3 separate regions of the Homo sapiens genome follow, and regions 1 and 2 are each linked to region 3. The links come from fine-mapping of genetic effects on gene expression. A gene starts in region 3. Each other region holds a variant in brackets. All regions are shown on one strand. Distances are from middle to middle. Region 1 overlaps TTBK1 (tau tubulin kinase 1). Region 2 holds the start of PEX6 (peroxisomal biogenesis factor 6). Region 3 holds the start of MEA1 (male-enhanced antigen 1).

Evidence for each region.
Region 1: its variant is fine-mapped to the expression of MEA1 in whole blood (INTERVAL, PIP above 0.99).
Region 2: its variant is fine-mapped to the expression of MEA1 in whole blood (INTERVAL, PIP above 0.99).

The regions. Positions count from the first base shown.
Region 1 is chr6:43,275,342-43,283,514 of GRCh38, reverse strand. It overlaps TTBK1 (tau tubulin kinase 1), which reads right to left. Exons shown (of 15, transcript NM_032538.3): 14 at 1-788. Among named protein-coding and RNA genes, the nearest start is that of SLC22A7, 19 kb to the left of the region's middle. RefSeq lists enhancers at 4,928-5,582, 5,583-6,238 and a silencer at 7,978-8,173. The variant C/T (reference allele first, on the strand shown) is at 3,967.
Region 2 is chr6:42,975,170-42,983,323 of GRCh38, reverse strand. It overlaps PEX6 (peroxisomal biogenesis factor 6), which reads left to right and starts at 4,143. Exons shown (of 17, transcript NM_000287.4): 1 at 4,143-5,055. The coding sequence starts at 4,174. LOC124900215 (a long non-coding RNA gene) reads left to right here. Exons shown (of 2, transcript XR_007059580.1): 2 at 2,481-2,782. RefSeq lists silencers at 1,884-2,102, 3,341-3,537, 4,192-4,571 and enhancers at 3,732-3,781, 3,942-4,883. The variant G/CGGGG (reference allele first, on the strand shown) is at 3,436.
Region 3 is chr6:43,010,212-43,018,384 of GRCh38, reverse strand. It overlaps MEA1 (male-enhanced antigen 1), which reads left to right and starts at 4,439. Exons shown (of 4, transcript NM_014623.4): 1 at 4,439-4,599; 2 at 4,996-5,270; 3 at 5,357-5,459; 4 at 5,764-7,242. The coding sequence starts at 4,572. The coding sequence ends at 5,915. PPP2R5D (protein phosphatase 2 regulatory subunit B'delta) reads right to left here. Exons shown (of 16, transcript NM_006245.4): 13 at 7,816-7,917; 14 at 7,649-7,721; 15 at 7,388-7,504; 16 at 6,043-7,236. The coding sequence ends at 7,099. It overlaps KLHDC3 (kelch domain containing 3), which reads right to left and starts at 4,136. Exons shown (of 11, transcript NM_057161.4): 1 at 4,037-4,136; 2 at 1,039-1,251; 3 at 690-866; 4 at 417-532; 5 at 169-240; 6 at 1-42. The coding sequence starts at 1,192. RefSeq lists enhancers at 4,188-4,307, 6,271-6,771 and a silencer at 4,518-4,567.

The DNA of each region.
Region 1 (8,173 bases), 270 kb before region 3:
TTGGTGAAGGGTGAGGAGGTGACTGCCACGCCCCCGACCCCTGTGGTCACTGTCCCGGCCCCCAGCCCTGCCCCAGGCCCCGGGGGCTTGGGCTCAGACTTGAGGACAGAGGACAGGGTGCCTGGCTCAGATACGTCCAGCTGGCTGCCCGTGGGCTGGGGCCGCTCATGCTGAGGAGTGAGGGCAGCCAGGGTGCCCAGGTCGGGGTCGGGGGCCAGTTCGGCAGTGACGGGCGACTTCTTCATGTCGCCAGGAGAGACAAGCACCAGCGTTTTGGAGCCCTCCTCAGGCTCCAGGTCCCCATCGGCCATGGAGGCCCGGCCCCTGGACTCCTTCTGATCGTCTGCCAGCAGCGTGGACGGGGCACCCTCCTGGCTCCGGTCAGTGCTCCTCTCACTCCCCTCACTGCTGGAGCCACTACGAGGCCCCAGCACCTCCCCCAAGGCAACTGCCGCTGCAGCCTCCTCCTCCTCTTCCTCCTCCTCCTCTTCTTCCTCCTCCTCTTCCTCTTCCTCCTCTTCTTCTTCCTCATCCTCTTCTTCCTCTTCCTCATCTTCCTCCTCCTCCTCCTCTTCCTCCTTCCCATTAGCCTGAGGCTGAACAGGAGCCAGTGGGACCTGGGGGGTGGTGAGCAGCATGTGCGAGAAGCCCACCCTCCGGACCCTGTTGAGCAACCGCGCCCGTTCTCGGTAATCGGAGAGGTCTCTTTTGAAGTCCTGGTAGGGCAGACTCAGAGGCACAGCTCGTGGGAGGCCATTCACCTCAAATGGGGGCGCCACGGAGAACACCTGCAAGGGGCATACACAGGGACCCTCTGAGGTCACCCACCCTCCTGGGCCCAGGAAGACTTCAGCTGCACCCACAACCTAGGAGACTCACAGGCCCAGGTCGTCTACCAGAGTGTGAGCTCCATAAAGTTAAGCACAGGCACTGGGTCTGTCTTGTTCACTGCTCTGTCCCCAGGGCCTAGAATGGTCTCTGGCGCCTAGTGAGTGCTCAGGAAACCTCTGATGAATGACTGTCCATGCTCTAGGTCCCCTGAAGTCCCAGGCCCTGATCCTGGTGGCCTTTCTGCCTCCCAGCCTCTCTATGTCCCCAGCCCCTCTCATCGCCATGTGCATCCTGCACCCGAGTCAGCAACAATAACAGAAAATGAAAACTGGAAGGAACCACGACCACCACGCAGATCAGCCCTTCCTTTTACAGATGAGAAAGCCAGGTCCAGAGACGGCGGCAAGTATCTGTGCCACTTCCTGGATGGGCTGTGCCGGGCTGGCTCCTAGATGCCCTCAGTACCACCTCAGGGTGTGCAGTTTCTCTGTGGCCAGAGAGCTGGCTGCCCAGGGCCACCAGATCCTGTGCTGGACAAGGGCAAAGGCGGGGCTGTCCTCTACCCTTAAAAGTGCAGGCTGGGCCCCTCGACCTCCAATCCATCCTCTCAGCCAGGAATTTGTCCAGCCCTCGACAGGTATACTTGAGCTCCATTCCATTTTCCTCTTCAAAGTTTTGTGCAGAGCCCTTGGCAATGTGATGGACAAAGCAGTCCTTGGTTTTCTAGACTCTTGCCATGTCCCCCTTAGCCTCCTTCCTTCCAGACTAGAAAGGTCTGACCACCTGGTCAGGACCTTGGCTGCTGTGTCTCCTTCACTCTAGCTCCACCCTGTTCAATACACAGACATCCCCAGGCACCCGCAATGCCCTGGGCGCATCAGGGCTGACACAGCTTTGTTCCATGGTGGGACGGTGCTGACGATGTCCAGCACTTTGCTAGCATTTTCGAACACGCTGGGCTTCTGTCTTCCTAAGCTAGCCGAACACAGCCCATCCAGACCAGAAGCCCCGGGGATATCCTGCCTCCCCACTTTCCTGCCCATCTACGCTGCCAAGGAGTCCTGCCAAGCATCCTTCTTAAACTTCTCTGTGTCTGCTACCCCAGGCCCACGAGCACAGCCTTGCCTTTCCTGGTGGTTCCCCAGCCACCGGCCTGTTCTCTCCATTCTGCACTGCCGTCCATCCTTTTTACATCTGCCTGAGTGATCTTCCTGAAACTTAATCTGATTCCATCTCTCTCTGCTTCAAATCTGCTATGGCTGCCACAGTCCTTAGGAGACAGTTCAGATCTTTTTTTTTTTTTTTTTTGATATGGAGCCCTGCTCTGTCGCCCAGGCTGGAGTGCAGTGGCACGATCTCGGCTCACTGCAACCTCTGCCTCCCGGGTTCAAGTGATTCTCCCATCTCAGCCTCCCTAGTAGCTGGGATTACAGGTGCCCGCCACCACGCCCGGCTAATTTTTTTTTATTCTTAGTAGAGACGGGGTTTCGCCGTGTTGGCCAGGCTGGTCTCAAACTCCTGACCTCAGGTGATCCACCCGCTTCGGCCTCCCAGAGTGCTGGGATTACAGGCGTGAGCCACCACGCCTGGCCTAAGACAGTTCAGATCTTTGACTTGGCCCATGAATCCCCCACCCAGCCCTGTGACCTGGCTACTACTGGCTGCTCTGGTCTCACTTATTGCAACACCCTCCGTCCCCTGCCCCTGCCTACACTCCACGCATTCCGATGCTTCCAGAAGTTCCTAAGTGCATCTTCCAGCTCACACTTAGCCCAGGCAGTTTCCTCCACCTGGGGGCTCCTCTCACCTCCTCTCTGCACATGATAACTTGCTACCCTTCCTTCAAGACCAGCTCAAACAGCTCCTGGTCTTAGCAAAGAGGAGACAAAGCCTTCCTGTCAACTTTCCTGTCCACCCACCAAGCAGATTTACTTATTCTCCCTTTTCTACTTGTTTTCCACATCCTTCTGTGAGAGAATCTCCCACCTATTGTCCTACATGCGTGTATTTATAGGGTTCCCTCTCCTGATACACAGAGATCCCTGAGGGTTTCTTCATTTACTCCCTCAAGAAGTGGTCTTTGAATGTCTCTTGTCCTGGTCACCATGTTATAGTCTAAGAATCTGTGGATCAAGTATGAACAAGATAGAGATGGTCCTTATTTTCTCTATATCAGGAAACTAAGTGGGGATATGCACATTCCACAAAGGTTGTGATCATAAATGAGGTCATATAAGCAAAGGCATATAGCAGTTGCTCAATAAATGTTAGCTCTCTCCCACCCCTACCTCCCACCTCCTGCTCTGCTCACCTTGGTTTGGAGGTCATTGGCCCCCTCCCCAACCCCAGAAAAGCCTGGATGCCACACCTATGGGGAATAGCGTGTGGGGAAAGGAGGGGGCTCTGCCAGCCGAAGCCTCCATGCAAATAGCACAAAGCCTGGTGGAGAGGAAGGCAGAGACCTCCAAGGCTGAGGATCTGTCCAGGGCTGTGGCTGCTCCCCTTCCCAACTGCCATGATCTTCCCTGTAATCAGACCATCAGTGAGGATTTGGTGGGGGTGATGCAAGAAGATAGCTTCAGATTCCAGCAGGACCCCAGCAACCCTGTTTGGGCCAGGTAGGGAACTTTCTTAGAAAACTTTTCTTAGTTAGAAAGTTTTCTTAGAAAGCTTTCTCAGAAAGCTCCCTACCTGGCTCAAACAGGGTTGCTAGGGTCCCCTCAGCCTGGGGAACATGGCAAAACCCTGTTTTCACTAAAAATACAAAAATTAGCTGGGCGTGGTTGTGCACGCCTGTGGTCCCAGCTACTCGAGAGGCTGAGGAGATCAAGGCTGCAGTGAGCTGTGATCGCACCACTGCACTCCAGCCTGGGCAACAGAACGACACTGTCTCAAAAAACACAACAACAACAACAACAACAACAAAAAACTTTGTCCCCTCCACATATAGGCTGGAAGTGTCCAGAAGAATTTACTTTTTCTGCACAATATTCGTTCTTATTAATCCATTCATTCATTTAGCAAACACTAAGCACCAACTGTGTGCCAGGCCTTGTGCTGGGACACTTTGCCAGTCACCAATGTTATGGCTAGAGAAAATGGCTGGATAGAGGTGGAGGGGCTGCTGTAAGCTCC[C/T]GGATGAGTGGGGACCATGGGGTGGGTGGGTGCTGGCACTGAGAGTCAGGGACAGGTAGACAGACAGAGAGCTCTGAGCATGTCTCTCTCCCAACCACCTCTGAACTCACCCAACTGGCACCAGCACATCCTGCCCAGTAGGGATGGCCTTTAACTCCACCAGGCCACCCATTCTCCTCAGAACCTTTACCTATTGTCCCTCTCTAATCCCTGGCACCTTGGTTAGAGACACCCTTTCCTTTGCTCTCTGGCCAGGCCCTGGATCTCTCTGAAAAGGCCCCATGTAGAGGATGGGATCCCCCGCAACACACACACACAGTGCTCACATTGGATGGTTGTAGGTGGAACCCTTTCTCCTGCCTCCAAGCCCTCCCCTCCTATTACCTGGGAGAGAGGAGGAATGAGAACTGGAAATCAATGATCAGTCATAAAATCAGACTGGGAAACTGAGGCACAGAGAGGGGCATGGATTTGGGCATTGGTCCAGGTTATGAAGCACATCCACCAGGGTGGCCCAGGACCCAAAACTCTTTCCAGTGTCTCCCACTCAGTCCCACATGGGGACACCTGGAACCCTCTGCCTTTTGGGAGGAAGAGCCCTGAATCTCAGGGTGAGGACAACTTTGCCCTAAGGATCACTGCCACCCCCACACCAACCTAGGCATGCTGGCTTTTCGGTTTCAAAGTCCCTCTGCCCTTCCCCCATCTGGCTCTGTGCTGGGGAGGGGCAGAGGCTGGGCTCAAATTCCTCCCTCCTCAGAGAGTAGCCTAACCGTCTCCCTGCCTCTCCTGAATGCCCAGTGAATTATTCATCCATTTGCCCATTTGATCTTGAGTTCATTCACTCAGCCAGTGATCCACAGACACCGTCAGTGTGCGTGGCTCTTTAGCTGTCTGACAAAATTCACACCTTCTTGCTTCCTTCTCAGGGCAGCAACCTTTATGATTCTAATCTGCTTATTGTGGTTCCCAGGCCTGGCTTGGCACAACATTGTCCAGAGTTGCTTTTTAAAAATACACAATCCTGGATCCTACCCCCAGATTCTGTAGGTCAGAGAAGAGGCCCAGAAATCTGGCTGTTTTAAAGCTCCTTAGTGATTCAGAGTTCAGCCAAAGGCATATATGGTAAGGGTTCGGCTGTGGGGAGAGGAGGAGGACAGGCCAATCAAACTGATACCCTCAGAGAGAATGAAAGCCCCAGCCCCTCCCCTCCATGCACTGTGCCTCATCTAGAGGGCTAGGCCTCACCAGCTCAAGAGCCCAGCCCAAGTCCATGTTTACTCCAGTTAGGAGGAAAAGTGAAGGGAGAGGATGGACCAGACTCTGATCTTCAATTGCCACCAACAAAACTGGGCTCTCATGCCCTTGGGGAAACTTCTCTGACACCGACACTGGAGACGGGGCTCCACATAGCCCCACCCTTAACCCCCACACAGGGTGCATGGAGCCACTCCTGCCTGGACCCCAGCCAGCCCCAGACTTCAGGCACTGCACCCCGGCCCACAGTCCCAAAGTCCAAGATGTGGGGCTGGGAGGCGATGTGTGATGAAAGCAGGAGGGTGAGCCCTGGCTCCCCACTCCTCCTATGCTGAGGTCGGAGGCTTGTGCCTCTCACAGCAGTTCCTCCTCCTCTCTCAGAAACTGCCTCGTGCATGCCTCCCACCTCCTCTCCTCCAGTAGGGAAGAAGCACCCCCAACACCCCTGCTCCACCTGCGAGGAGATGAGATGTGCCTGCATCACCTCTGTCAGCTCCGCACTCAGCACCGCCTCTCCCAGACCCTTCACTTGCATTTGTCTGTCTGTGCCACCACTCTCCAAACGTCTCTGCCAAGCCAAGAGCCCTCCCTCCACTCCACCCCACACCCAGGAATGCCGGGGAAGGGGAAGGTGGCGGAAGGGGTAAGATGACCCGGGAACGTGGCCACCTACCCTGGGTCTATGCAGAACCACACCCACTTGACCCCACATCTCTGTGTCCAAAACCCACCCTTGCCTGCCCCAGGGCGAGGAGCTGACAGCCTGTGGGGGGCGTCTTCTAAATGCCCCGGGGCTTTGGGAATGCAGCTGGAGCTTGCCCCTTTGCCTTTCTGGTTGGCAGTGTGCGGGGATGGGGTGGAGGTATGGGGGGGCCTTCCTCTTTTACATTGTCCTCCTCACCTTTCCCCTCTCTCTCCAGTCTCAGAAGTCTGCCATTATTTCCTTCTTAGTGGCCCACCCCTCCCACTGACTGAGTTCTCCTTCAACCCATGTTCCATCCCTGCACCCCCAACCCCAGGTTCTCACAGTCCATGCTCCAGTGTCCCTCCTTGGCGGGCCACCCCCACCCTGGCACCCCCAAGGCCAGGGCTGCATCTCCCATATCTCTCAGATTGCCCATCGTAGCAGAGGGCCAGTGGGAGGCTCCTCAGTACAGTGTCCTCTCACAGGCCTCTGGCATCCTAGCTTTCTAGTCCCACCAGACACTTGGTCTCAAAAGCCTGATCCCATACAGAACTGATCACTGGGCCTGGTGGGCCCAGCCCCCTACTTCTACACACCCTCCATCCCCACCCGGAAGTTGGCAATTTGGAGCTGAGTCCCAGAGACCAGAGTCCACTCACCCCTTCCCTCCCCACCCGTTCAGTGAAAGGAGACTGCCAGCAGGGCAAGGGTGACTCAAGTCCAACTAGGCCCAAACCTCTGGGGTGCCCTCCTCACCCAGCTGCCTGGCTAAGGTGTGGACGAAGCTCATCCACTGACCCAGAACTTGCCCACCCCTCAGTCCCAGAGTCAGCAACAGACTAACCCCTGCCCTCTGCCCAGCCCGGCGACCTCAGAGCCAGGGTCTACACTGAGAGCTGGGAAAGGAAGGGGGAGGGTGAAAGAAAGCAGGCGGAGGCGCAGGTTCCTGGAAGGCGTCTTTAATCAGGATTTGGTAGTACACAAGCTCTCCGGATTGTCTGCATTAACATACAGGGACTTAAAAAGGCACAAAATCCCTCGCACAGCGACGCGTGACGGCGGGGCGCCCCCTCCCCGCCCGTGCGCGGCCGTGTGCGCGTGGGTGCGTGTCCGTGTCCCACCCCCGTGGCGGCGCCGCGCGTGTGCGTGTCGGTTTCAAGTGTTGGATTTGTACAGTACTCGCAGTCTAGGGGCAGGGGGCTCAGTGCATGCTTTTCTACCCGGGCCTGGGGCCACCCCCCGACGCCGCTATGTACACTAAGGAGGACGCACCCCGGAGAGAGAGAGGAAGAAAAAAAGCGTCCCATCTTCGTGTGCGTGTGTGTGCGTGTGAGCGTGTGTGTGGTTTTGAGTTTTTCGTGCATGCTTCCGCTGGCCAGGGTCGGGAAATAGTGCAAGCGTATAATACAGTATTATTGCAGTACAAAATGGGGGGTCGAGGGAAGGACTTACGATGGGAGGGGAAGGCTCAGGAATAAACCGACTGGGACTCAGGACCTCCGCGAGGGTCCTCTCGCTAATCCCCTTCCTATCCCTCCCCTACTCCGCCCCCACCCCGCAATTAGAAGGCGTCTCCTTACGCAGGAAGGGGCTCAGCTGGGCCCCGGTGCTGAGTTTCTCTCTCCTACCAGTCCCGCTTCTCCGGGGGCAGGGGCCAGCCCCTCTCCTCGCTCGACACTGAGAACTCTGAGGGCCCGGAGCCCCGCCCCCTCCCCCACGGAAGCCCCTCCGAGCGGGGAGCGGGGTCGACGGAGCAAGTGCAAAGGAAGCAGATGTTGGTCCCTGAGTTTTATTTTCGGGGGTGGGGGTGTGGGAAGAGCTGGAAATGGGGGGGCATGTTTGGTGACCCCCAGGGCCCTCAGTGGTGGGGTGGGGCAGGGGACGCGGATTGGGGCGTGGGCAAAAAGGGGGCTGTTGGGTTGCTCTGAGAGACCTGGGCTCAAAGCTCTGCTCCCCCTCAACTCTGGGCTCTTTGGCATCCAATTGCAAGGCCAATTATTGGGGCGGGGTGGGGGGCAGCCCGACGGGCAGTGAGGTAACGGGAGTCAGGGGTGGGGCGACAGGGCCCTCCGAGCCTGGAGGCTTAGCCGAACGCCTCCGCCTGTCCCCATCCGCACCCCAGCCTGGCAGCACTGAGGGGAGCCCCACTCCAGCCCGCCCCCGCCCCGGGGCCAGGGACCCAAAGGCCGCCAGCCAGCAGCAGGGAAAAGCAAACGAAAACGGGCGCGAAGGCGGGGCGACGGGGGCGGCGGGGGACGCGAACCC
Region 2 (8,154 bases), 35 kb after region 3:
AAACCCCATTTCTACTAAAAATACAAAAATTAGACAGGGTGCGGTGGCTCACGCCTGTAATCCCAGCACTTTGGGAGGCCGAGGTGGGCGGATCACGAGTCAAGAGATCGAGGCCATCCCGGCCAACATGGTGAAACCATGCCTCTATGAAAAATACAAAAATTAGCGGGGCGTGGTGGCGCGCGCCTGTAGTCCCAGCTACTCGGGAGACTGAAGCAGGAGAATCACTTGAACCCGGTAGGAGGCTGAGGCAGGAGAATTACTTGACCCCGGTAGGTGGAGGTTGCAGTGAGCCGAGATCATGCCACTGCGCTCCAGCCTGGGCGACAGAGCAAGACTCCGTCTACAAAAAAAAAAGAAGAAACCTGTGATGCAAAGGCATGAGAATGATACAATGGAGGCCGGGCGCGGTGGCTCACGCCCGTAATCCCAGCACTTTAGGAGGCCGAGGCGGGCGGATCACGAGGTCAGGAGATCGAGACCATCCTGGATAACACGATGAAACCCCGTCTCTACTAAAATAATACAAAAAAATAGCCGGGCGTGGTGGCAGGCGCCTGTAGTCCCAGCTACCCGGGAGGCTGAGGCAGGAGAATGGCGTGAACCCGGGAGGCAGAGGTTGCAGTGAGCCTAGATCATGCCACTGCACTCCAGCCTGGGCGACAGAGCAAGACTCCGTCTCAAAAAAAAAAAAAAATACTACACATTGGGTACAGTATACACTGCTTGGGTGATGGCTGCATCAAAATCTCATAAATCACCACTAAAGAACTTATTCATGTACAAAAAATAAATTTTTAAAATTCTATATAAAATAAAATATTTAGTCTTAAAAAAAAAAAAGGTCAGGCGCAGTGGCTCACGCCTGTAATCCCAGCACTTTGGGAGACTGAGGAGGGCGGATCACCTGAGGTCAGGAGTTCAGGACCAGCCTGGCCAACATGGCAAAACCCCGTCTCTACAAAAATACAAAAATTAGCCAGGCATGACGGTGGGTGCCTGTAATCCCAGCTACTCAGGAGGCTGAGGCAGGATAATCCATTGAACCCGGGAGGTGGAGTTTGCAGTGAGCCGAGATCGCACCATTGCATTCCAGCCTGGGCGACAGGGCAAGACTCCATCTGAAAAAAAAAAAAAAAAACACAAAACCTGTGTCCCTTACCCAGGTACCCAGGAGAGCAATGTTACAAGACAGTGGCCGTGGGGATGGAGAAGAGAGGATGGAGCATGAAAATGTGTAGAATCAACAGGATATGGTGATTCATTGTATTGTGGGGGGGACGGTAACGGAAAGGGAAGAGTTGAGGATGATTTCTGGAAGTGATCAGAGTTGTAGGAGGACAACTGGTGTCATAATGGCAAAGGAAATAAAAGACAATTGGTCAGTAGTGTCAGAGAAAGAACAGCATCATCTTGATTCTGCAATTAGAAGATTATGGGTGATTTTTTCAGAGAGTGGAAGACCGTTTTTAGTGAGTGGAAGAGTGAGCATCAAGAGGTGAGGAAGTGAAGATGGCAAATGTAGGGTCCTGGCGATCTTACAGAAGTAGTATTTGGCTTTCGGTGACTAATGACGATTTCAGGGTAACACAAAGTGGACTACATGCCCGCTGTTACCTGCTGGGAGAAAAGCTTGGGAGAAAAGGACATTTATTTGTGGGTGGGTATTTGTGTCTGTATGAGTGCTGATCCAGGCAAGATAACTGATGTTTTTACCCATCTCCAAGGCCTCAAGGAGCACTATAGTCCTGAGGCCTAGAGCTTGCCTGCTACTGAGGAAAGCAGGCATATCCTCTTTAGGCCCATGTACCATCTATCTAGCCCTTGGTTCCTCTGGGACATAGGGGACCAAGAAACATATAGTAGCACTACCAAATGGGAACTTTCATCCATGTGAATCTAGGTACCTAGAACATTCTTTATTTAGTTTTTTTTTCTTTTAATTTTATATATTTTAAGAGACAAGGTCTTGCTCTGTCACCCACTTGGAGTGCAGTGGCACAATCATAGCCTCAAATTCCTGGGTTCAAGTGATCCTTCTGCCTCAGCCTCCCCATAGCTGGGATTATAGACACAAGCCATGGTTCCTGGTTAGTACATTCTTGCATGCTATTTTATTTATTTTTTTCTATTATTTATTTTTTTGAGACGGAATCTCACTCTGTCACCCAGGCTGGAGTGCAGTGGCGCAGTCTCGGCTCACTGCAAGCTCTGTCTCCCGGCTTCACGCCATTCTCCTGCCTCAGCCTCCCGAGTAGCTGGGACTACAGGCACACACCACCATACCCAGCTAATTTTTGTATTTTTAGTAGAGACGGGGTTTCACCATGTTGGCCAGGCTGGTCTCAAACTCCTGGCCTCAAGCAGTCCACCCACTTGGCCTCCCAAAGTGCTGGGATTACAGCCATGAGCCACTGCGCCCAGCCCCTTATAATATGCAAATCTAATAGTTTTCATATATTTGTCTTTCAAATTTTCAGGAATGTATAATGTACAAAATAGAAGACTGCCTCAAGAAGAAAGGAGAGATGGAGAAAGCTGAGCAGTAGCTGAAAGAGAATGTAAGGTCTAGAAAATGGAGATTGGCACCATCCAATTCATTTATTGTAAGTGAAAATAATTGTTAATAATTGGAAATGCAGTGGGACATGATGGCTTATGCCTGTAGTCCCAGCACTTTGGGAGGCTGAGGCCTGAGGATCTCTTCAGACCAGGAGTTTGAGACCAGCCTAGGCAACACAGAGAAACTCTGTCTCTACAAAAAATAAAAAATTAGTCCAGGCGCAGTGGCTCATGCCTGTAATCCCAGCACTTTGGGAGGCGTAAGCAGGTGGCTCACTTGAAGCCAGGAGTTCGAGACCAGCCTGACCAACAGGGTGAAACCCCGTCTCTACTGAAAATACAACATTAGCTGGGTGTGGTGGCACACACCTGTAATCTCAGCTACTTGGGAGGCTGGGGCAGGAGATTCTTTGAACCTGGGAAGCGGAGATTGCAGTGAGCTGAGATCGTGCCATTGCACTCTGGCCTGGGCAACAAGACCGAAACTCCGTCTCAAAAAAAAAATTGGCTGGGTATGGTGGCGTGTGCCTGTGGTCCCGGCTACAGTTACTCGGGAGGCTGAGGTGGGAGATCACTTGAGCCTGGGACGGTAGAAGCTGCAATGAATGGGGATCGTGCCACTGTACTCCAACCTGGGTGACAGAGTAGGACCCTGTTGCCATAAAAAAGGAAATGTGGCCTACCACTAGCTGAGTGTCTTGTACAGAACAGTGGAGGTGAAGAGAAGGATGGAATCTAAATAACAGCACACGCAGGAAGTCGACTGTTGGTGTTATGCTGACAGAAGCCTTGAACTCCTTTCCTTCTGCCTGCTCTGCTGCCTGCCCCGCTCTAGGATAGAAAGTGAATGGGTTTCCGATCTGCAAGGATTTG[G/CGGGG]GGGGGGGGGGTGAAAGAAAAGCTGTTTTGTCTTCAACTTAAGTTTGGTGGGAGTAAAACAAACAGAACAATGAACAGGGCAAGAAGTCCTGGAACATGGGTTTTGTGCCAGATGTGCTGGAACATGTGTGGTGGCACCAAGCACTCCAGGGCTGTATGAATCACATCTAGTAATTCACTCAGCAGCCACTATATACCTATAAGCAAGTGTGAGACAGTTTTCTAATCCTGCTACTCCCTCCTGCAACCTTTCCTGCAACCCTCAAACCTCAGTGCTCACAGTTCCACAGGGGAAGCTGCAGGAGCTCCGCAGAGGAGCGGACTCCTTCCGAAACATTTCACCTAGAGCTCCCAGTACTGGGCCCAGTCATCCCGAGCATGCTGACTGTTCATTTATCAGTCAATAAACTGTTACGTTCATGCCACGGGGAAAAATAGTTAAGAGAACATTACTTCCGTAGAAGGCAAAGATAAATCCCTTAAGCACAAGTTCAAATGGCGCATGGGTAAACGCTACGCAACCGCAGCGATGAAGGTTACTGCCTATCGAGGCACGACGCAGATCAATCCGAGGCGCAGCTAACCCCCTCAGAGCAAGTTCGCGGCACCCGACCCCCCTCCCCTTTTCCTCTGGCCTCCCCTGACGGAAGCGGAAGCGGCCCTCGCGCACACTAGTCGTCTGGCTCTCTGGCTCCGGAAGCTGCGCTCCTTCACCCTCCTCGTTGGTGTCCTGTCACCATGGCGCTGGCTGTCTTGCGGGTCCTGGAGCCCTTTCCGACCGAGACACCCCCGTTGGCAGTGCTGCTGCCACCCGGGGGCCCGTGGCCGGCGGCGGAGCTGGGCCTGGTGCTGGCCCTGAGGCCTGCAGGGGAGAGCCCGGCAGGGCCGGCGCTGCTGGTGGCAGCCCTGGAGGGGCCGGACGCGGGCACCGAAGAGCAGGGTCCCGGGCCGCCGCAGCTACTGGTTAGCCGCGCGCTGCTGCGGCTCCTGGCACTGGGCTCCGGGGCCTGGGTGCGGGCGCGGGCGGTGCGGCGGCCCCCGGCGCTAGGTTGGGCACTGCTTGGCACCTCGCTGGGGCCTGGGCTCGGACCGCGAGTCGGGCCGCTGCTGGTGAGGCGCGGAGAGACCCTCCCAGTGCCCGGACCGCGGGTGCTGGAGACGCGGCCGGCGTTGCAAGGGCTGCTGGGCCCAGGGACTCGGCTGGCTGTGACTGAGCTCCGCGGGCGGGCCAGACTGTGTCCAGAGTCTGGGGACAGCAGTCGGCCCCCACCCCCGCCCGTGGTGTCCTCCTTTGCGGTTTCTGGCACAGTGCGGCGACTCCAGGGAGTTCTGGGAGGGACTGGAGATTCACTAGGGGTGAGCCGGAGCTGTCTCCGTGGCCTTGGCCTCTTCCAGGGCGAATGGGTGTGGGTGGCCCAGGCCAGAGAGTCATCGAACACTTCACAGCCGCACTTGGCTAGGGTGCAGGTCCTAGAACCTCGCTGGGACCTCTCTGATAGACTGGGACCCGGCTCTGGACCGCTGGGAGAGCCCCTCGCTGACGGACTGGCGCTTGTCCCTGCCACTTTGGCTTTTAATCTTGGCTGTGACCCCCTGGAAATGGGAGAGCTCAGAATTCAGGTAGGATAAAGGACTGGGGTCAGGAGTGCTTCCTCTTTCTTATACCCTCTTCTCTGTCTTAGGTAAATTGGAAGATTTAGGACTCGTGCCCCATATCATCCCGGACTTTGAACATAATGTTTCTAGCCGGGCGCGGTGACTCACGCCTGTAATCCCAGCACTTTGGGAGGCCGAGGCGAGCGGATCACTTGGGGTCGGGAGTTCGAGACCAGCCTGACCAACATGGAGAAACCCCGTCTCTACTAAAAAAATGTAAAATTAGCCGGGCGTGGTGGTGCATGCCTCTAATCCCAGCTACTTGGGAGGCTGAAGCAGGAGAATCGCTTGAACCTGGGAGGCGGAGGTTGCGGTGAGCCAAGATCGCGCCATTGGACTCCAGCCTGGGCGATAAGAGTGAAACTCTGTCTCAAAAAAAAAAAAAAAAAAGCATAATGTTTCTTAGCCTCATTTATCTATTTTCTTTTTCTTTCTTTCCTTTTTTTTTTTTTTTTTTTTTTTTTGAGATGGGGTCTTGCTCTGTCACCCAGGCTGGAATGTGGTGATGCGATCTCGGCTTACTGCAACCTCCGCCTCCCAGGTTCAAGCGATTCTCCTGTCTCAGCCTCCTACTACTGGCTCGCGCCACGACGCCCGGCTAATTTTTGTAATTTTTAGTAGAGACGGGGTTTCACCGTATTGGTCAGGCTGGTCTCGAACTCCTGACCTCAGGTGATCCACCCAAAGTGTTGGGATTACAGGCGTGAGCCACCTCACCCGGCCTATTGATCCATATTCTGTAATCAAAATATCATAAGCCTCCATAATGTAGTGGGGCATACAAAAGGCTTTCATCCATTCAGGTGAAAGGTGAAGTTTGGGTGTGGTGGTGCATGCCTGTAATCCCAGCTACTTGGGAGGCTGAGGCAGGAGAATTGTTTGAACCTGGGAGGTGGAGGTTGCAGTGAGCCCAGATCACACCACTGCACTCCAGCCTGGACGACAGAGCGAAATTCTGTGTAAAAAAAAAAAAAAAAAAAAGTGAGGTTTCAGATGTGTATGTTAATCTACTCAATCTAATTAGTTTATTGAATTGCTACAATGTATTCAGTATTGTGCTTTATAATATGGAGGATGATGTCTCTGTGCTTTTGCTCATTCTTATCCTTGACTTCAAATTGTTTCCTATTATTCTAGCCTCATCTGTTAAAATCCTACCCTCCTTTCCCTCAAGAGCCATCTAAAGATGACACCTTTATCACAAAGCCTTTCATGATCTCACAGCCACGAATTTAGAACTTCCTCCTATAGCATTTTCTATCTTTTTTATGGCATTTATTTTATTCTATCTTGTTATGATTACATAATCTGTTTAATCCCCAATTATATATTGTAAATACCTTGAAGGAAAGGAGTCTTTATTATCTTTGGTGCCTGGTGTTTAGTTTTAATATTTTATTAAATACATCCAAGGAAAGTTTTTGGTTTCTGCCTTTACTTCAAGAAGAAAGTTGTAGAACAGATAATAGTTGTTCCATTTCCATGGGTTACTGAGTAAAGACTCACCAGTTCGCCATAACAGACATAAGAGTGACAAAAAAATAAACCTTCATTGTGTAAAAAAAAAAAAGGCCAGGCGCAGTGGCTCATGCCTGTAATCCCAGCACTTTGGGAGGCTGAGCCAGGCAGATCACTTGAGGTCAGGAGTTCGAGACCAGCCTGGCCTACATGGTGAAACCTCATCTCTACTAAAAATACAAAAATCAGCCCAGTATGGTGGTGCACACCAGTAAACCCAACAACTGGGGAGGCTGAAGCAGGAGAATCGCTTGAACCTGGGAGGTGGCAGTTGCAGTGAACCCAGATCACACCACTGCACTCCAACCTGGGTGACAGAGCAAGATTCTGTCTCAAAAAAAGAAAAAAATGAAAGTTGTGTTTAGGGGGACAAATACAGTATAGTGTTTAATTAAGGACCTAGATATATGGTTTAGATGGTGCTGTCCAATATGGAAGCCACCAGCCACTTTGTGGCTTTTTAAATTTTTAAATTTAGTTAAAACTAAATAAAGTAAGCCTGGCTAACATGGCGAAACCCCATCTCTATTTTAAAAAATACAAAAATTAAATCCCAGCACTTTGGGAGGCCAAGGCAGGCAGATCACAAGGTCAGGAGATTGAGACCATCCTGGCTAACACGGTGAAACCCCGTCTCTACTAAAAATACAAAAAAAAAAAAAATTAGGTGTGGTGGCACATGCCTGTCGTCCCAGCTACTCTGGAGGCTGAGGCAGGAGAATCCCTTGAACCCAGGAGGCGGAGCTTGCAGTGAGCCGAGATGGTGCCACTGCACTCCAGCCTGGGTGACAAGCGAGACTCCATCTCAAGAAAAAAATAAAACCCACAAAAATTAGCCAGGCATGGTGGTGCACATGCCTATAGTCCCAGCTACTCAGGAGGCTGAGGCACAAAGAGAATCATTTGAACCCAGGAGGAAGAGGTTGCAATGAGCCGAGACTGTGCCACTGCACTTCATCATGGGCGACAAAGTGAGACTAAGTCTCAAAAAAAAAAAAAAAACTAAATCATGTTTTTTAGTTGCTTTAGCTACATTTCTTTGTTTTTGTTTTGTTTTTAGCCACATTTCAAGTGCTCAATAGCACATGCAGATATAGACTATTCCATTGTAGAGAGTTCTACTGGGCAGTACTAGAGTAACCAGTTAATACTTTGGGATGTCAGGTAGAGATACATGTGAAATACATGTGAAAGGGAGTGGATGTAGGTTTCCTCCTGAATGGAGGAAAAACTACTGGGGTACTCAAGAGTAGAGCTCATTGAACCAACCAATGACTGAACCAACCCGTTCAGCTTTTCCCACAGCCTGAATTCAGTTTCCCCACTAATGACCACTTAATGTTAATCCCTGTGGATGCCTGGTGTCACTAATAGGTCTTGTGGGAATAAATGTCTTTACCATTTCACTGGCTCTGGGCCAAGTTGAAAGTGTCACAGAAAGGTTATCTTTACTGAGAAAATTTTTTGGAGCCAGAGTCGGGATAGGAGGTGATATTCTCTTCCTGGTACCCATTAGAGGGAGAGGTTTTCAGGTCTGCTACCTCA
Region 3 (8,173 bases):
CATTGTGGCTGAGTGGAAGTCCCTCCAGCGTGCAGGGCTGCCCTGGGCAGAGGCAGAGAGATGGTGGAGGGGTCAGCACAAAGACTGGAAGAGGATCTCCTCTGACTGAGCTTCCTATCATTGCTTCAACAGAGGGTGGGGATTTGGGAAAAAAAAGAAAGAGCAGACCTTTGTACAGATAAGAGTCCATGTCATGGTGCTGGTATCTAGCTTGTGAATGTCATTGGAAAAACAGTCCGCCTGAGTAGGAAGAGAAAAGGAGGAAGAAAAGAGGGAGCCAATGGTCACTCTCTGACCCTCCATCCCTCCCCTCAAAACCTGCAAACAAGCCAAAGCCTCCCATTTCACCATCCTAAATTGCCCTTCCCCTCTTTCTCAGTCCCACCCTAAACCTCTTATTTTATTCCCAGACCTACCTGCTGCTCGTAGCCCCCAAAAATGTACATGATCTTGCCTAGGACACAGGCTGAATGTCCATCCCGGGCCCCAGGAACTGTCCCTGACACTCGGGGTGTGAACCACTTGTGCGTATCTGAAGGAGATGAGAAAATGGCTCAACTAAGCACCCTCTATGACAGTCCCTCCTCAGCTCTGGGGTACTCTACTCCCCAAGACCCCCAACCCAAACCTTTCTTGGGCAACTGAGGCAACATCTGGAAGGACATAGCCTCTCTGAGATCCATACTCACTGACGTCAAAGGCATAGAGCACATTGCAGGCCCCTTCGGTGTCATTCCGCCCGCCCCAAAGGAGGACTGTGTCGTCGATGAGGACGGTTGAGTGTCCATAGCGCATGTAGGGTACCACAGGAGCTTGCCCACGGATGGCAGACTTCACCGGGGGCAGCTTTGTCCAACGCAAGGACACTGTGGGCACAGCTCTGCTCAGCCCTGGGAACCTCCCTCCAGGCTGTCCACTTTTCCCAAACCAGATGTTTGTCCCCAATCCCCTTGGTCCCAGAGACCACAGCCAAACCTCATCAGCAGCCCGTTCCCACCCTGATGTGGGGACCCAGGGACAGCCCCAGCATTGGCTTACCTGCATTGAAAATGTGCACATCTATCTGACGCAGTGTCTCATAGTCTTCACCAGAGCAGTAACCCCCGAAGGAGTATACCCGATGCCCGACAGCCACTGCAGCATGGTTCACCCTGCGGGGCCCGCCCTCCAGGTGCACTGTCCACCGTAACATCCCCTGGGCCACTGGTTACAGCAACATGCCCCCCCGGCACGGCCTGCTGCCTCTGCTATCTGCACACAAATTGGGGCCACGGGATCCTCAGGCGAGGCTTCTGCCCAGCTCACTGTGACTCTGCCCAGAACCAGCCTTTGCCTCCAAGTGTCACCCTGGGGGCCCTCCCACACTACCCCTCCACAGGGGCACTAGTCTCAGCTCAGGTGGCTGGCCCTGCCCCAAGGGAGCTGCCGAGGTCAGGGAGCAGCCTGGGCCCAGTGTTCTCCAACAGTGAAGGGTGGGGCCACCCCCACCTGATTGCCAGCTCAGAATCTGCATATCATGGTCACAACCTACTCGTGGAGGCTCCACTCTGTCCCTGGCTTGGCACAAACTTGAAGCCCCCTTCCCAAACGGTATATTCTCTTGTCTCTGCTCTGCTTACTGCCACCTCTCTAAGAATCTGTGTTCTTTGAGGTGGGGAAAGGGATCTCAAAATACTCACAGCTATTAATAGCCCAGCCAGCCTCAAACAGTCCATTGAAAGCTGGCATGAGTGCCTCAAAGCAGAAAAGCTTTCAGGCTTTTAGAGTGGAACAATCCCCCTACCCAAGATAGGGCGGGACTGATCCAGGACAGGGACCTCCATGTTACCGCGGTTGGTTAGCCCCTCACAGGGAGCTCCTGTCAAGCTGAGTTGTTGTCATTGGGGTCACCCAGGGCCCCCCACAGGCACAAGGAGTTCCTTTGACAGCTGTGCCTGGTATGCTGCCAGGACTTAAGCCAGAAAGGTATGTGTATGCTTAGGCTTGGGGGATGGTGATAGAGGGAGGGGTTTTCTCCTCCTGCCACTTCCCCATCCCTGCTACTGTGGTAGAGAACAAGCCATTTCCAGTAGAAAAGAGAGAACAAGCTCTTCCACAACTTGGGTTCCTGAAAGGCGGATAGAGGTGGGAGTGTGCAATGCAAAGGGGAAGGGGCTGGGCACAGTGGCTCACACCTGTAATCCCAGCACCCTGAGAGGCCGAGGCAGGTGGATCACGAGATCAAGAGACGGAGACCATCCTGGCCAACATGGTGAAACCCGTCTCTACTAAAAATACAAAAATTAGCTGGGCACGGTGGCGCGCACCTGTAGTCCCAGCTACTCAGGAGGCTGAGGCAGGAGAATTGCTTGCACTCGGGTGGCGGAGGTTGGAGTGAGCCGAGATCACACCACTGCACTCCAGTCTGGCGACAGAGCGAGACTCTGTCTCAAAACAAAAAAAAAGGGGAAGGGAGGCAAAAAATGCCCTTGGGCAGGACAAGAGAAAGATCCAGCATGAGAAGTCATGGTCTTTTTTTTTTTTTTTTTTTTTAGATGAAGTCTCGCTCTTGCCCCCAGGCTGGAGCGCAATGGTGCAATCTCAGCTCACTGCAAACTCTGCCTCCCTCCCGGGTTCAAGCGATTCTCCTGCCTCAGCCTCCCAAGTAGCTGGGATTACAGGCGCCTGCCACCATGCCCAGCTAATTTTTGTATTTTTAGTAGAGATGGGGTCTCACTATGTTGGCCAGGCTGGTCTCAAACTCCTGACCTCAGGTGATCCACCGTCCTCGGTCTCCTGAAGTGCTGGGATTACAGGCGTGAGCCACCATGCCCAGCTGGTCATGGTCTCTTAAACACAACCTGTCAACCTAGTGGCACGTACACCTGGGTACATCTGAGGTTTTTTCAGGCAAATCCTTGCAACTGACAATGCTTTTGCTGGCAAGCATCTCCTGAGTTTGGGTGTATCATCATCTGCTCCCTGTTTAAGAAGCCCTGGCAGAGGAAAGGGCCAGGCAAAACCTCAGGCACTAAAACAGCTCAAATAAGGGAGGCCCCTTGCAGGAAAGAGACATGGCTTTCAGCTGGCTTGCTAGTCCCACCCACCCAACCTCCCCCAACTCCACACCCTAAGCTTTAAATAGCCATGGGACCCATCCTGAAATAGCCCCAGCAGGAAGCTACTCTCACTTCATTACTCCCGCTCTCCAAAATATCTTGGGTCTGGGCTTGTGGAGACTGTTAGGAGGTCGATGGGCTTAAGAATGGAAGTCTTCCATCCTCCCTTATATTCTCTATTCTTCCCTTCAGATATGTCAAGGTAAAGTAAAATATGCACAGGAGAGGAGATAAGCAATTCCAGCCAAAGGTGGAGAAAAAAAATTTTAGTTTCTCTGCCATATAAACAACTCAAATTCAAGGAGAACAAGCCCCCAGGCGCTCAGGGGCTCCTCTTATCCCTGGGTCTCCCCAGTCCTCCATCACCACCAAGCATTTTCAAACTTCTTCTATTCCCTTAATGTATCTACCCGCCTGGTCTCTTGCATTTTTTATTCCCCATTTCTCGCCCTTCTTGATCTCGTGAGAGCTTTGCAGTTTTCTCATTTTTCCTTCTCCTACCATTCCAAGCTCCACCCAACAGCCCTCCATTTTCCCACCTCCACTAAGGAAAGAAAAATTAGCATGCACTGACCACGATACCCCTCTCTGCATATGACTCTATCCCTGTCTTCTTCCAGACATTCCGGCCTCCCCTAGCCCACCACGCCAGACACCCCTCCCCTTCCATTATGCTCAGCTTCCCTGTTTTCATGGCCCAGTCTTCCTTCCCATTTCCTTCATTGCTTCCTCCAGACACCAGGTCTCTCCTACCCATCTCCTCGCCATCCTCCCCTAGCCCTGCTTTCCCCATTAACACTCTCCTTTCCCATCATCCCCCTAGCTCCCTCCCCACCCCCACCTCATCACTCTCAGGCCCCTCCCCCGCCACTCCAGCTCCAGACAGCACGTCCTAAGCCCCCTAATTCTCCCTTGCCCTTCTACCCATCCCAGGCTACCTGCCAGGCCGAGCCGGGGCGGGGCCGCGGGTCCTCGAGCTGCCTGCAGCCTAGAACCCGTTGCGCGCCAACCGACGCCTTAGTCCCCAACGAGATAAACACAGCCAAGCTCGGTTCTTCCGGCGGGCAGCTGTGCGCGCACGTGCAGTCGTAGCTAAGTGCCGGAGGCATTTCGGGACTTGTAGTCCATACGTTTCCTGAGGGACGAGAGGGCTGAGGAGTGGGCAGGGGCGTAGGAGAGATTCTGCGCATGTGCAAATATGTGTCGAGACCGAGGAGGCCACTGGGTAATGCAGTCCTTTGTTTTTTGGGCTGGGAATGACGGAGGCGGGGCAAGGGGCGGACTCCTCGTCCTCGCCAGCGTCAATCATGGATATGGGGCGGGGCTGGAGGACTAGGCACCTCTGCACGTCCTGCCCCGCCGGAAGTGGAGGCCGCGGGCTCTGAGCGGGTGAGGCGCGCGGGAACACCGGCGCCGGGATTCGGATGGGGGCGGGTGGGGGACGCTGCAGCTGGGGCCATTTGAGGGGAGCCCATGGGGCCTGAAAGGCATCTGTCAGGCGGTACAGAGGGGGTCCTCTAGGAGAGGGGAGAAGGGGGCGGGTACGCCGACCTGTTTAGGGGAGTCTGATGACCCAGAGTTCCCAAGTCGCGGGGGAGGCGTGGCGCGGGGAGCCGGGGTTCTGGAAGGGGTGTCTTTTAGGAGGTGGCAGGGCCTCCGGTTGGGCGTTTAACTAGGAAGTGGCGGAGCAAGTTGGTGGGGCCTGGTTCAAGATAAGAACCCCGACTTAGGAGGGGGAGGAACGAGAGGCTGGAATTGGGGCGGAGGGGTGGAGGATGCAGGAGCCTCGGGGAGGAGCTGGTTTTTTGCACGCAGGAGACTACAAGGAGATGATGAGAGGATGAAGATGGGCCTGGTTTCATCCGATCCCTGTCCTACCGCCTCCCTGTTCTTGCAGCCCCTGCCCGGATGGCAACAGTAGTTCTAGGAGGAGACACCATGGGCCCTGAGCGTATCTTCCCCAATCAGACTGAGGAACTGGGACATCAGGGCCCTTCAGAAGGCACTGGGGATTGGAGCAGTGAGGAGCCTGAGGAAGAGCAGGAGGAAACGGGGTCGGGCCCAGCTGGCTACTCCTACCAGCCCCTGAACCAAGATCCTGAACAAGAGGAGGTGGAACTGGCACCAGTGGGGGATGGAGATGTAGTTGCTGACATCCAGGATCGAATCCAGGTAGGGTGGAGGAGGGATGGTTCCTGAACAGGTGAAGCTGGGCTCCCTGAAAGCCTAGACCCAAACGGTCTTCTGTGGCTCTGCAGGCCCTGGGGCTTCATTTGCCAGACCCACCATTAGAGAGTGAAGATGAAGATGAGGAGGGAGCTACAGCGTTGAACAACCACAGCTCTATTCCCATGGACCCAGGTAAAAGATCATTCTTTCATTCTGGAATAATTACTAAGGAAATGAACTGGCATGAGTCAGTAGAAGGAAGTTTCAGAGGAAGACCCTATCCTAAAAAGATAGTTTGTAAACTAAGATTTTGTAGACTTCAGAGTCCAAGTGAAATGCTCTTTTGCTAGCTTTGGGGATGGGCAGGCTTGCCTTAAAGTAACAAGGTGGATTTGGTGACCCTAGCAGCCCAAGGGCTCTGGGTTGATTCGGGGATTGGGGAGGGGAGCTGGTCCCATTATTTCTATGCCTGAATGGCCTCTGGCTCTGATTTCAGAACATGTAGAGCTGGTGAAAAGGACAATGGCTGGAGTAAGCCTGCCTGCGCCAGGGGTTCCTGCCTGGGCTCGGGAGATATCGGATGCCCAGTGGGAAGATGTGGTACAGAAAGCCCTCCAAGCCCGGCAGGCATCCCCTGCCTGGAAGTGACCACAGTGAGAGCTGCCTTATATTCCTACATTCCAGGCCAGAACCAGCACAGGACTGAACACATCCCTGGTTGTAATGTCCATTTCCATCTTCCCCGTCTCCCTTTCCACATCAAGGCACATCAGACTTCTCAGAGACCCACTTTATTCAGTTCTGTACATATGGGGACATCGGTCCAAGCCCAACCCACCTTAGCATGTATCACTCTGTGGAGAATAAAGCACCCTATGTACACAGCCAAAAGCCGCACTGCCTGCGCCCCTGGAACCTGGGTCCGGCCTTCCTCAGCCCCTGGCCCCTCCAAGGTACCTATAAGGGACAAGAGAAGGCCTGCCCAGCATAGCACAAACAAGGAAATAAATAGGTGTTGGCAGGAGCCATGCTTGGGGCACCGCTCCCTGCTTCCTTCTTTCTAGTTTTGGGAACCAACAGCACAGAAAAGCAGTCAGCCCCAGGGTGGTCCCTTCCATGTCTGTGACCCCAGGGCTGCTGCTCACCAAAGACAGGGCACGGGGTAGGGTGTTTATTCATCCCTCCCCGGCCCCACTTGGTCCATCTGGGCCCTATATTCATCAGTTATTGTCCACAGCCTATACTTTTCTCCTTTTGACCTCCCTTGGTCAGGCATGGGGTAAGAAGAAATAATACAACCCTATCTGCCAGCACACGGCTGGGACTGGGGGGCCTATTTGTGCTGCAGGGGGGTTGGCTTCCCTTCAGCTACTCTGGGACCAATGGGGCTTGACATAACTTTGGTGAGAATAATCTCCTGCTGTTCCCTACATGCCTCTGCAGGGGAGAGAGAGGAGGGGAGATACCTGGCGTTCAAATGAGGATGAAGGGAAGAATAGAGGAGCGTATGTATTCCTGTGTGTACTTCTCAGAGCAGCCTCAGGTAGCTGTGGGTGAGGAGCAGGTAGGGGACAGGCATCCCCAGGTTGTCTGAGCACTAAGCATCTTAGTGCTCAGCCTGTACTAGCCACAGGGAGGCATGAACACCTTTTGGGGAGAAGAGGGACCATTCTGTGGGTGTCCCTGCTTCAAGTGCCCACATCCCCCTCCCTTGAGTAGCTAGAGAGGCGCTGCCTTCCCCCAAGACAGCCAGTAGGGAGCAGAGTATGGAGGGCCAGGGCAGTGTCCCAGGGCTGTGTGGGCTGTGGCCCTGTGGTAGGAACGTGAGGGGTCAGAGAGCCTCCTGGCTGGCAGTTAGGAACTCTTCCGCCCGCTTGTGCGCCTCCAGTGCCTTGATGGTGTACACGTCCTGGGGCAGCTCCGACTTCCTCCGCAGCAGCACTTTCTCCTTCTTGATGTCTTTTAGCATCTGTGTGTGAATAGGGACAAGGTGAGGAATGGTGACCAATTCCCAGTGAATTCTATTGTTCCGTCCCCTTATTCTTTGGCTCTGCTGTTTCTGTCTCCTCTCCCTTCCAGAGCTATTATTTCTGCTCCATCCCCCTACATTGCCCTCCCACCTGAACAGCCTCAGTCTCCACAGTCCTCTTCAGAAGCTGGATGTCCTCAGCTGTGGGGGTCTCTGTCTCCATCGAGTACACAGGGGGCAGTGGTGGAGGGGCTCGGAACATGGGATACTGAGTGAGGAGACATGGACAAGCGTTAAGAGCCACTTCAGAGGCTTGGGGGCCTGTGTGCCCCATATTCCTCCCCCAACAAACTCTCCCCCAGCTCAAGATGGGCTGGCCCCTCAGTTCACAACAGTGGCAGGAAAACCTCACCTGGGGATTAAGCCGGGCCAGCTCCTCGATTTTTTGCCACATCTCTTCCCTTTCCTTCATTCGGAACCGGCCCCTGAGGAGCAAAAGTAGGATTGGGGTTGGGCTTGAGAGAAACACAGTGAGCTGGTGGTAGAAGATGAAAGTCTCCCGGGGAGAGAGATACTCACTTCTGCTTCTCTGCCTTGTATTGTTGTGTGCAGTCATCAAACAGCTTCTGATTCATTTCCATAAACAACTTCAGGGCATTATAGATCAGTCCATGGATTGTCCTGCCACCAAGAAGAAAGATGAGGTGTAGGAGGCCAGAGCCTGCCCTTAGCGTGAGGAACCCAATTTGTTCTCTCACAGGGGTATCTCTGCTAAGAGCTTTGTCATTTACTACTTCCAGTTCACAAACCTCTGTGCAGTATCAGAAGAGAGCTCTGGCCAAATCACCTGGTTTGAGACTGGCATTTCATGGTTTTCACAAATATCGGTCCACCTGTCCATCCTTCCCTCACCCCATGCTCCAAGGCCTGCCTACCT